Linked DNA regions of Homo sapiens. The protein of the gene in region 3 purifies or fractionates together with the protein of the main gene of each other region. This does not show direct contact. Each region holds a gene or a part of one and is shown on either strand. Other genes may lie near its edges. The genes, in order: IFT74, KATNIP and IFT172.

Region 1 (3,654 bases), on a different chromosome or scaffold from region 3:
CAAATAATTGCTGAGTACCTACTATGTGCCAACCAATACCACAGGGCAAGGAATAAAGTAAACGAGACAGACATTGTCTCTGTCCCGTCAGAGCTCTCAATCTAGACCTCACACACTGTTCAAGTAATTATCAGCAAGATGAGTGATATGAAAAGGGGGCTGCAGGTATATATATCTACGCATCCTATGTAAATAATTGGAGATATGAATTAAGAAGTTCAAGGATACCTGGATTGCTCTTTATAGCATTATTTCAATGGTTTTAAAACTAGAAATTACCTAAATATCCAACGAAAGGGAATTGGTTCAATATATTATGCGACATCCATGCACTAGAATATCATTAAGCTATTAATATTTTTTAAAAGTCAATATATATATTGACAAGGGAAAGTACTTATGATGTATAGTTAATCATGAAAAACAAGCTCCTAAATGATATGTACAATATGGCACAATTTCTATAAATGCATAGAAATAAATGTGTACCTAAGTATATGCATAAATATGTGTATACACATATCTATCTATCTATCTATCTATCTATCTATCTATCTATCTATCTATCCATTGACTAAAAGAACCCACACTAAAGCAACAATAAGCATTCTCTCTTCTGGGTGGTGGGGTACTAATCATTAGAATTTATTTTATTTGTGATTTTATGGATTTTTAGTTTCTGTATTAGTAATGTTTCACTTCCAAAATTTTTAAAATATACTACCCCATATATCTTAACAGTTGTGCCCAAGACAGTATCTAACAGAGTTGGCTTTCAATATAGGTTTATGGAAGGTAAGAAAGCAGGAGTCCATTCATTCTGAATGAAGACTGTACAGAATCTGGCTGTCTTAAAAGTCAGAAAATCTAGAAGGTATATAAAGCAAATTTTAAAATAAAAAATTGATTGTTTTGGGGTGAAAATATAGACTAAGACAATTTCAAAGTCATTTAAAACATTTTTTACCTGAGAATGTGTCTCATTTTCTTGCAATTGTGTTTTTAGTGCCTCATACTCTATGTTTTGCTTCTCCATTATTTTCTTAAAGGCATTTCTGTGGGTTGATAATATCATTCTCTCCTGATGTAATTTCTAGAAAGATCCAAATAGAAGTGACAGGTTATAGAAAATATGTAGTAAGCCAATATAAATCATATTTAACTTAATTTCAATAACTATATTCTGGTAAAATTATATCAAGGCTATAACTACTCTAAAACCCGTTTGTAAAAATATCCTTTGAACTATAAGCTATGTTAACATTATCTGTATTAATAACTCTATTAATGCTGCCATATCTCTCCCGACCCTACCAAATTAAGTCTAAATTAATGTAAATGGCAATGGAAAGCCACTGACAAGTTTCAGGTAGGATAGAGTCATAATCTAAACTGCATTTAACAAAGCTCACATCTGCTGAAATGCTCTGTATTAAGTAGCAGCTTATACCTTGCTTTTCAATTTTTGCTTTTCTTTAAAACTTTAAGTCACTCTAAATTCCAACTACATATGTAAACATTTTTATTTTTTCTCACTTATATATATAAAATAATCAACTTAAAATAATAAATCCTATAAACCACAAATATATTACATTTGATCAAGAAAAAAACAATCTGAATTGTAATTCTGTAAGACTTGGTTAACATTTACCTTTATCTTTTCTTCACCTGATGATTTTAAAGCTGGCAAATCATTATATATCTCCAGATCAGTTGTCATTTGCTTAATTTTGCTTTTTAGAGAATGCTGTTCTTCAGTCATCTTACTTTCTAGAAGCTCCATTTTCTGCAGATCCAACTGCAGACGTTGAATGTCTGAAACATAAGAATTTAAGGTGATAATTAATCAAAATTTTATTCCTTTCACATAAGGAAATGTAATGCAACTATTAAAAATCATGTTTTTTAAGAATATCTGTAAAAGAAATATATGTTCACTGTAACCAGTGAGATAATATAAACTAAGAAAAAAAAATACTCATCCCCTCAATAACCAATTTCAGGTAACCAATATATTAGGGAATCAAGGTAACCTGATGTCTATTAGCCACAGCTGTCTCCATGCTAACAAACATTTAAGTTTTTTTCTTGCTTAGTAATATAATCTATATTATGAGATAAAGACACATTATTTTTAACAGAAGCATGACACAGTTATGTAGGGAAAAAACCAAGTTATAAAACATTATATATATATTTGAGCACAATTTTATAATTGCACACATAATCAACTCTTACTATCTGTGGTAGTTATGTCCTATGAAGTTATTGTGAACAATGAGTTAGCAAATATTGAACTATTGCTCCCAAAGGAAATACAGAGTTAAGTTCCTGTGAGCCTTTAGTCACATTTTAGTCAATTAGCCAATACATAATCTTGCTTTATGTTTGTTTAAAGACATTTTATTTACTATAGGTTGTAGATTCACTAACATTGAACTCACAGCCAACAGCACTGTAACTTATGCCTGAATTAAGTTTACCTATCACACATTTTCTCCATAAGGCTATGATGTGCCTTAGGAACACTTAGCACATCAGCACTTTGCTTGGGGCCATTTTAAATGGCATGATCACCAACAGAAAGCACAAAAATGCAAAAAACATGCCACTAAATATACTGCAAAAAGGAAACCTCTTTATAGTATGAGAACTGACATAAGAAGGCAGAGTGTTGCCTTTTTCAACTTCTGTTGGCAATGTGCATGTCAGGCTGTTGAAATTTTTCACGAGTCTGCACATGCCCACAAATGATCATGAAAATGCTGCAAGGATTGATTTGGGGGGTACAAAGTAACTTTAGTGAGAGGGCAAATTCACAATATGAAATATATGAATAATGAGGATACCTGTGTGTGTCTCATTCTTCCATTCAAAAATATCAAGCATCTACTATGTGCCAGGTGCTGAGGATATAATAGCAATCAACAGAGACATGGTTTTCACTCAGGGAGCTGTATTTTAGAGGTAGAAGCAGGCAATTAAATAAGTATTTACAATAAACTGGATAAATATGAAAAGAGTAGCACAGGGTGCCATAAAAGCATGTAGCAGGGATGAAGAGAGCTCTCTAAAGATATGCCTTTCAATTAAAGGCTTAAGGTTTATGAATATCACACAAAGAGGAAGGTAAAAGTGTTCCAGCAAAAACAATCAGCATGTGCAAAGTCTAGAGGTAAGAAAGTCTAGTACCTTTGAGCCAGTAACAAGTTCAGCATACTGAATAGTAAATGAATATGAATGAATTTGAAGAGTAAAAAACAATGCTTCGAAAGTCACTGATTTGAGAAAACAGGCTGTTATCCAACCAAAATTTTTAAAGTTAGTATAATTAAGCCAGTATTTCTTGAATGTTTCCTTTTATCCCTTTAAGAGTTTTAAAAGTCAACCACAGCGACATACACTATTTAAAAATATATATGTGTATGTACACGTAAATACAAATATGTATATAGCAAAACTTAAATGTTGTTGCAAAGAGTTTTGTTTTGTTGGATTCTTATCTCTACCACGGTTAGAAATAGTTATGAGAATCAAAGAGCTGAACAAGTGACTAAGGCTTATGCTATTTTAATGCTCGAAATAGGAACTGTTTTTAGCCTGTAGATATTTTGACTATTTGGAGTAAACACTGATATAAATCTAACTGCA
Region 2 (3,654 bases), on a different chromosome or scaffold from region 3:
CTCTCCTTTCATAATCAGGAATGCCCTTGAAGACCATCTAATCATCTACTGCAAAGTTCACAAAGCTCTCAGGGTGAGTCCTGCCAGCAGATGTGCCTTTTTTTTTTTTTTTTGACATATACAGTAGTTTAAAAATAATCTCAATCAGTTGCCAAAGTCAAAAAATAAGAAACATTTCTGGTTTCTCTTGAAAAAAGTAAAGAGGAGGTCTGGTACAGTGGCCTTGCATTCATTATTTTTTTTTGAGACGGAGTCTCACTCTCTTGCCCAGGCTGGAGTGCAGTGGCACAATTTCGGATCACTGTAGCCTCCACCTCCTAGGTTCAAGTGATCCTCCTGCCTCAGCCTCCCAAGTAGCTGGGATTACAGGAACGCACCACATGCCTGGCTAATTTTTGTATTTTTAGTAGAGTCAGGGTTTTACCATGTTGGCCAGGCTGGTCTCGAACTCCTGGCCTCAGGTTATCTGCCCGCCTCGGCCTCCCAAAGTGCTGGGATTACAGGTGTGAGCCATTGCGCCCGGCCTGGCCTTGCACTCCTAAATGCTTATTAGAAACCTGAGTGGAGTGGCAGCCGCCCTGTGGGTGGGCTTATGGTCTCCAAATTGCCAAAGTCCTCACTATTCCCTGTGCCACTTCCAACACTCAGGCAAGTGTCAATTGCTATGCATCATCACACTTGTGTTATTATTTTTTCTTTTTTTTCTTTGAGACAGAGTCTCGCTGTGTCACCCAGGCTGGAGTGCAGTGGCGCAATCATGGCTCACCGTAGCCTCGACCTCCTTGGCTCAAGCGATCCTCCTACCTAAGCCTCCCAAAGTGCTGGGATTACAGGCCTGGCCACTGTACCCAGCTATTTTTCTAACAGTACAGTTAAGGATAAAGTGAAGTGACTAGAGACCGATGTCTCTATGAAAGGCAGGAGAACAAAGTCTTTTGGAAAATGGCTTGGAAAAGCCATGTGTTGCAAGAAAAATGGGCAAAGGGACATACCTTGGTGGCAATGACAAATACATCTATGAATTTACCATGCAAAATGTGTCTTGCCCATTTCACTCATGTATGCATCTCTTTGGCCCCTGAGACAGTGATTTTGTGACCCTTAGTTGAGAACAACCATCTTGTTGTGCAGATAAGGAAACTGAGGTCCAGGAGCTAACTGGCTTCATGCCAATTAGAGGGGCTGGGATGATGATGCCCAAGTCGGGCTGCTCTTTGGAGCTTACCTCTGCTGGCTGGCTGGTCGTCCCCATGACTACTGCTGCCAGCATCCTTCCTTGAGCCCCTCCTCCCACTAGCAGGGCGCTCTCTGTTGGGGGGCTGGTTAAAGATGTCTGAGTCATCACTGTGGACTTTGGTGGTTGCCCTCTGGGGTCTCTCCTTGGTGTTGACACTCCGGCTGGTCCCCCACCCTGGCTCATGCCGTAGGCCTTTATCCCTGGCCTCGGTCTCTCCAGGACCCTCACCGATGACATCGTCTGATGGGAGCCTGCCCTTCCAGGCCAGGGGCTTCTCGGGACTAAGCCAGAGGGGTTTTGGCTTCCTGCCTCCCTGCTTCCTGTCCTTGCCGGTGGGAGAAGGTTGTAACCAGGATGGGGTTTTCCCGGGTGGCTCACAGATTTTTCTGCCCATGAGGTTTTCCAGTTGTTGGATGAGAGAGGGCTCCTCATGGACAGGAGGGCACTTCACAGGTGGGGAAGTGGCAGGAGCACTGGGCATGTCACCCATCGAAGTGGGGACTGCCGACAGTCTCAAATATTCCTCTAACTGGGACAAACTGTCTTTCCTGCAATTAGTAGAATTCTTTCTTTTGCCAGACACATTTCCTTGTGAAGAAAGCTTTGCATCCGCTAATGTTTCAGCTGGCGGTGAGCAACCGAGACCAAGCTCCTTGTCCCCGCTGGCACCAGCCATCTCATGGGTGCCTTTGCTTTCTTCCGAGTGAGCGTTCATGGCCTCCTCTAGTTGCTCGCTCTTCTCGTTCTTCTGGTCAACCAGGATGCTGTGGTCAGCTGGGGCCTCCCTATCTCCTTTGTCTAACTTGCCATTGAAGATGAGGTTTCTGTTGACGTAAAGCTTCACGTTCTTGGCACCAATGTCAAGATCCTGAAACCATAAGATTTAACAAAGTGAAGATGCATAGCATCAGACTGATGTATGAAATTTTGGAAGTCGAAGATACCAAAAAAAGAAAAGAAAATGTGAAATGCTAGAAATGCAAGCTTTTGAAAACCACAGTGCTGGGGGTGTGAAACTAGGCTTGGTCTCATTTCTGTGGGAACCGCTACATACTCTATAAATCAAAGGACTTTCACAAAGAGACGGCCTCAATCGCTGCCTTCGTCATCATTACCTCCTGTCGGGACATTCGTAATAGCCTACTAATGGGTCTCCCTGCTTCCTGTCTCTTGCTACTTTAACTTGGACTTCACATTGCCACCAGAGTTCATTTCCTACCAGAGCAAATCTGTCCAGTCATTCCCCTGTGTGAAATCCTTCATGTTTTTTCACAGCCTATAGCAGTGTTCTTTAAAGTCCAGTTCCTGAGACCATCTGCGTCGAAAAGCCTGGAGTGCTTATAAAACAGCTTTCCTGGCCTCCGTGGGCATCATAATTGGGAGACCGTAAAAGCAGAGGCTGAGACAAGGACTCGGGTGCAAGTCGAGTATTTGGCAGGTGATTCCAAGAGGAAATGGGGAAAGCAAGATAGGGCAGGAAAAAGGAAAAACCCAGTTTTTTTGAGCTGGTCACTGCTGTGGCCAACTGGTGCTCCTTCCCACGGGGGCCCTCTGCGGCACTCCAAGATCTCACTTTCCCCAACCCTAGTCTTCACCTATCTTAAAAATGGCTCCATCATTGAAGCAGTGGCCAAAAACCTCGTGGCCCCCTTGATCCCTCTCTTTCTCACTTGCCCATCCAATCCGCCAGCTGTCCCTCGCCTCTCTCTCCAGAACACTTCCTGGGTCTGACCTCTTTACCTGGAATGTGCTGCTGCCTTCCTTGCCCAGGCCACCAGGGTCTCTACCAGAGACACCACTGCCGCCTCCTAATTGGTCTCTCTGCTTCCACTCTGCGTTGTCTCCTCCAAATCCCTGCACTCACACTTCATTTTCTATGCAGCAGTGAGTTTTTTTTTTTTTAACTGAAATCAGATCATGGGAGTCTTCTGCTTAAATGCATGTCGCAAATGTCTCTCCAAGACTGGGACATTTATCCACTGCTTGTTGAAGGCTGCCCTCAGGGCACTGATGCCCCAACACATGCACGAGCTGAGTGTGCTCCCACGGCAGAGCACCCCACGAGCACCTGAGGCAGGGCACTGTCCACATGCGGGGACTGTCCCATGTTCACGGCAGCTGCAGTTGGAAGGGAGCCAGGAGGATGCCGTGTGAGGACCACTGCCTCAAGGCAGCCTGTAGGTAACTTCTGGACTCAGAACAAGTTCTCCGGATGATTTCTTCACACGACGGGGTGCAGAACCATGCCGATGATGGGATAAATTCCAAAGCTCTCCACATGACATACAGTAACCTTCACAAATGGTCCCCACCTCGCTCTCCTCTCTCACTGCCAGCCTAAATGCCCCTATGTCACGCAGGTTCAACTCTCTTCCTTCCATGCTTAAGATAAAATCACATCTCCTGCTACTGTTTCA
Region 3 (3,654 bases):
AGGCCAGGCGTGGTGGCTCACACCAGTAATCCCAGCACGCTGGGAGGCTGAGGCAGGTGGATCACATGAGGTCAGGAGTTCAAGACCAGCCTGGCCACATGGTGAAACCCCATCTCTACTAAAAATACAAAAAATTAGCCAGGAGTGGTGGCACACGCCTGTAATCCCAGCTACTCGGGAGGCTGAGGTGGGAGAATCGCTTGAGCCAAGGAAGCAGAGGTTGCAGTGAGCCCGAGATCACACAACTGCACTTCAGCCTCGGCAACAGAGTGAGACTCCATCTCAAGAAAAAGAACAGTTGCCTTGGAAAGGGTGTGTGCAAATAAGGAGCCCTGAAGCTTAAGCTTCTTTTAGTTTCCCAGTATTTCTGTTGGTATAGTAGTTAAAAGGCTTTTGGTCCTCATGGGCTGGCATCTTAGCCAGGCTGAGGAGAGCTTGCTGCTTTCTGATCCTCATATCTTTCTGGTGTCCCTCTCTGCTCTGCCTGTTTCCCCTAGAATGCTGTGGAGGAGGCCATGGGCATGTACCAGGAGCTACACCGTTGGGATGAGTGTATCGCTGTGGCTGAAGCCAAGGTACCTGTTTTATCTTCTCCACAGTTGTTCAGAATTTGGTTCTGCCAATTTCAAAAACCTCCTTTTGTCAAGGAGGCCATAGAAACCAGAACAGGGTTGGGGCTTGGACTTGATGTGGTGAGGAGTTAGGATACTGCTGACCCAGGAGGATTCCCCTTGTTATAGAGGGATTGGAGAAGCATGGGAGGCAGAAGGGTAGGAAGGGGGATGTGACTCCTAGTTGTCCTCTGTGCATGTCCAGGGGCACCCAGCCCTGGAGAAGCTACGTCGTAGTTACTACCAGTGGCTGATGGACACACAGCAAGAGGAGCGAGCAGGTGAACTACAGGAGAGCCAAGGGGATGGGCTAGCAGCCATCAGCCTCTACCTCAAAGCTGGGCTCCCTGCCAAAGCTGCTCGGCTGGTGCTGACCCGAGAGGAACTGCTAGCCAACACAGAGCTGGTAGAACACATCACTGCAGCCCTTATCAAGGGGGAACTCTACGAAAGGGTATGCTGGCTTCCTTTTCCTAGCCCTTATCTCCAGAGCTCAGGACCCTTCCCTTACCCAGAGGAGTCTTGGGGTGCAGAGCGCTTCCTGACTGCTGGTGTTCCCTTGTTTTCGGAGCTAATACTTAGTTCTTTGTGTTGTAGGGGTATCATAGTAATGTGGTATGTGTTAACAGGCAGGTGATCTCTTTGAGAAGATTCACAATCCACAGAAGGCCCTGGAGTGCTACCGTAAAGGCAACGCATTCATGAAAGGTACTAGCCACCTATAAGCCATCCTTTACTGTTGTGGACTCTTGCCCATCTGGTTCCCTGGCACCTCTTGTAGGGGTGGGTTGCCCCTACACACCTGTGGGTGTTTCTCGTAAGGTGGGACGAGAGATTTGGAAAAGAAAAAGACACAGAGACAAAGTATAGAGAAAGAAATAAGGGGACCCGGGGAACCAGCGTTCAGCATATGGAGGATCCCGCCAGCCTCTGAGTTCCCTTAGTATTTATTGATCATCTGTGGGTGTTTCTCAAAGAGGGGGATGTGTCAGGGTCACAAGACAATTGTGGGGAGAGGGTCAGCAGACAAACACGTGAACAAAGGTCTTTGCATCATAGACAATGTAAAGGATTAAGTGCTGTGCTTTTAGATATGCATACACATAAACATCTCAATGCTTTACAAAGCAGTATTGCTGCCCGCAGGTCCCACCTCCAGCCCTAAGGCGGTTTTTCCCTATCTCAGTAGATGGAGCATACAATCGGGTTTTATACCGAGACATTCCATTGCCCAGGGACGGGCAGGAGACAGATGCCTTCCTCTTGTCTCAACTGCAAGAGGCATTCCTTCCTCTTTTACTAATCCTCCTCAGCACAGACCCTTTACGGGTGTCGGGCTGGGGGACGGTCAGGTCTTTCCCTTCCCACGAGGCCATATTTCAGACTATCACATGGGGAGAAACCTTGGACAATACCTGGCTTTCCTAGGCAGAGGTACCTGCGGCCTTCCGCAGTTTTTGTGTCCCTGGGTACTTGAGATTAGGGAGTGGTGATGACTCTTAAGGAGCATGCTGCCTTCAAGCATCTGTTTAACAAAGCACATCTTGCACCGCCCTTAATCCATTCAACTCTGAGTGGACACAGCACATGTTTCAGAGAGCACGGGGTTGGGGGTAAGGTTATAGATTAACAGAATCTCAAGGCAGAAGAATTTTTCTTAGTACATAACAAAATGGAGTCTCCTATGTCTACTTCTTTCTACACAGACACAGTAACAATCTGATCTCTCTTGCTTTTCCCCACACCTCTTGGTGCGTGTGTTCAGGATGCCTGGCTCCAGTCCTCCATTCCTCCCCTTCTTACCTATTCTCCATGCTTCATCTCCCTGTCCTACCTTTTTCCTGAGGCCCATCCCTGGAAATCTGGGCTGAGCATCTTTTCTCTCCCTGGCAGCGGTAGAGCTGGCTCGATTGGCCTTCCCAGTGGAGGTGGTGAAACTAGAGGAGGCATGGGGGGACCACCTGGTGCAGCAGAAGCAGCTTGATGCAGCCATTAATCACTACATCGAAGCCAGGTATGGGAGTATGGGAATGTAAAGGAGATTTAGGTGTGAAGTGAGGGGCAGTGGAGCAAGTAAGGACACCAAGGCCTTAAAGAAGAGATCTCAAAATGTAGGTTGAAGTGTGCTTAAAGGGTCCTTTTACCTCCATTCATCTTCATCTTTCATCCTACATATTTATATCTTTCCCAACTTTGCCAGGTGCTCCATTAAGGCAATTGAGGCCGCCCTGGGTGCCCGCCAGTGGAAGAAGGCAATTTATATATTAGATCTACAGGACCGGAACACTGCATCCAAATACTATCCTCTCGTGGCCCAACACTATGCATCCCTGCAGGAGTATGAGGTGAGGAAGAGTCCCTTTCCGCAGCACGAGGCAATGCAGTAGAGGATAACAATGAGAGAACCCAAAGCAGGAAGTGGAGGCAAGTTCACCAGATCCTTCTTTCTGGGCTCCAAACAGCATCATCACCTTGAAGGGGAAGAGAACAGTTTACTTTCCCATTTTCATTCCAGTGTGACACAGATATCGCCCTTCACCCCAGATATATAAAGTGAGTCTCTAGCTGTGTTCCAGTCAGCGTGATTCTTCATGAATAATGCTAACATAGTTATGATATAAAATTGCTTTGCATTGCAGAAATGTGAGGCCCTTTTGGATTCCACTGTTTGGGGCTGGTCTTTCTTTTTAAATGGTAGAATGTATGAGACACCCATACTCATCTTTTCTTCTCTATTATTACAAGGTTGTATCGCAGGCTCTCCACCATCCCAGCCAAGGTTTGTTCTTTCCTCATTCAAGCTGCTTTAAGTCTGTTGCTCTGACCTTTTGTATCTACCTCCCATCAACTACAGATTGCTGAGGAGCTCTATACTAAGGGAGATCGGACAAAAGATGCCATAGACATGTACACCCAGGCTGGTCGTTGGGAACAAGCCCACAAGGTAGGGATGGGTGGAGTTCATGATAAGAGAACTCTGCCTTAGTGGCATTGTGGCCTCATTCCTTGATACCTGTTTCTCCTCTTCGCTTGGCTCCCTGAA

The links.
Region 1: the proteins of IFT172 (region 3) and IFT74 purify together in Homo sapiens (affinity purification with mass spectrometry; one large-scale study listed by BioGRID and IntAct). This does not show direct contact.
Region 2: the proteins of IFT172 (region 3) and KATNIP purify together in Homo sapiens (tandem affinity purification; one large-scale study listed by IntAct). This does not show direct contact.

Annotation. Positions count from the first base shown.
Region 1 is NC_000009.12:27,053,773-27,057,426, reverse strand, and holds part of IFT74 (intraflagellar transport protein 74 homolog), read right to left. Parts: intron 1,819-3,654; coding exon 1,655-1,818; intron 1,094-1,654; coding exon 968-1,093; intron 1-967. UniProt on the Homo sapiens protein: Component of the intraflagellar transport (IFT) complex B: together with IFT81, forms a tubulin-binding module that specifically mediates transport of tubulin within the cilium. Binds beta-tubulin via its basic region. Required for ciliogenesis.
Region 2 is NC_000016.10:27,738,492-27,742,145, reverse strand, and holds part of KATNIP (katanin-interacting protein), read right to left. Parts: intron 2,106-3,654; coding exon 1,226-2,105; intron 1-1,225. UniProt on the Homo sapiens protein: May influence the stability of microtubules (MT), possibly through interaction with the MT-severing katanin complex.
Region 3 is NC_000002.12:27,458,680-27,462,333, reverse strand, and holds part of IFT172 (intraflagellar transport protein 172 homolog), read left to right. Parts: intron 1-497; coding exon 498-575; intron 576-816; coding exon 817-1,065; intron 1,066-1,240; coding exon 1,241-1,319; intron 1,320-2,504; coding exon 2,505-2,625; intron 2,626-2,811; coding exon 2,812-2,956; intron 2,957-3,465; coding exon 3,466-3,555; intron 3,556-3,654. UniProt on the Homo sapiens protein: Required for the maintenance and formation of cilia. Plays an indirect role in hedgehog (Hh) signaling, cilia being required for all activity of the hedgehog pathway.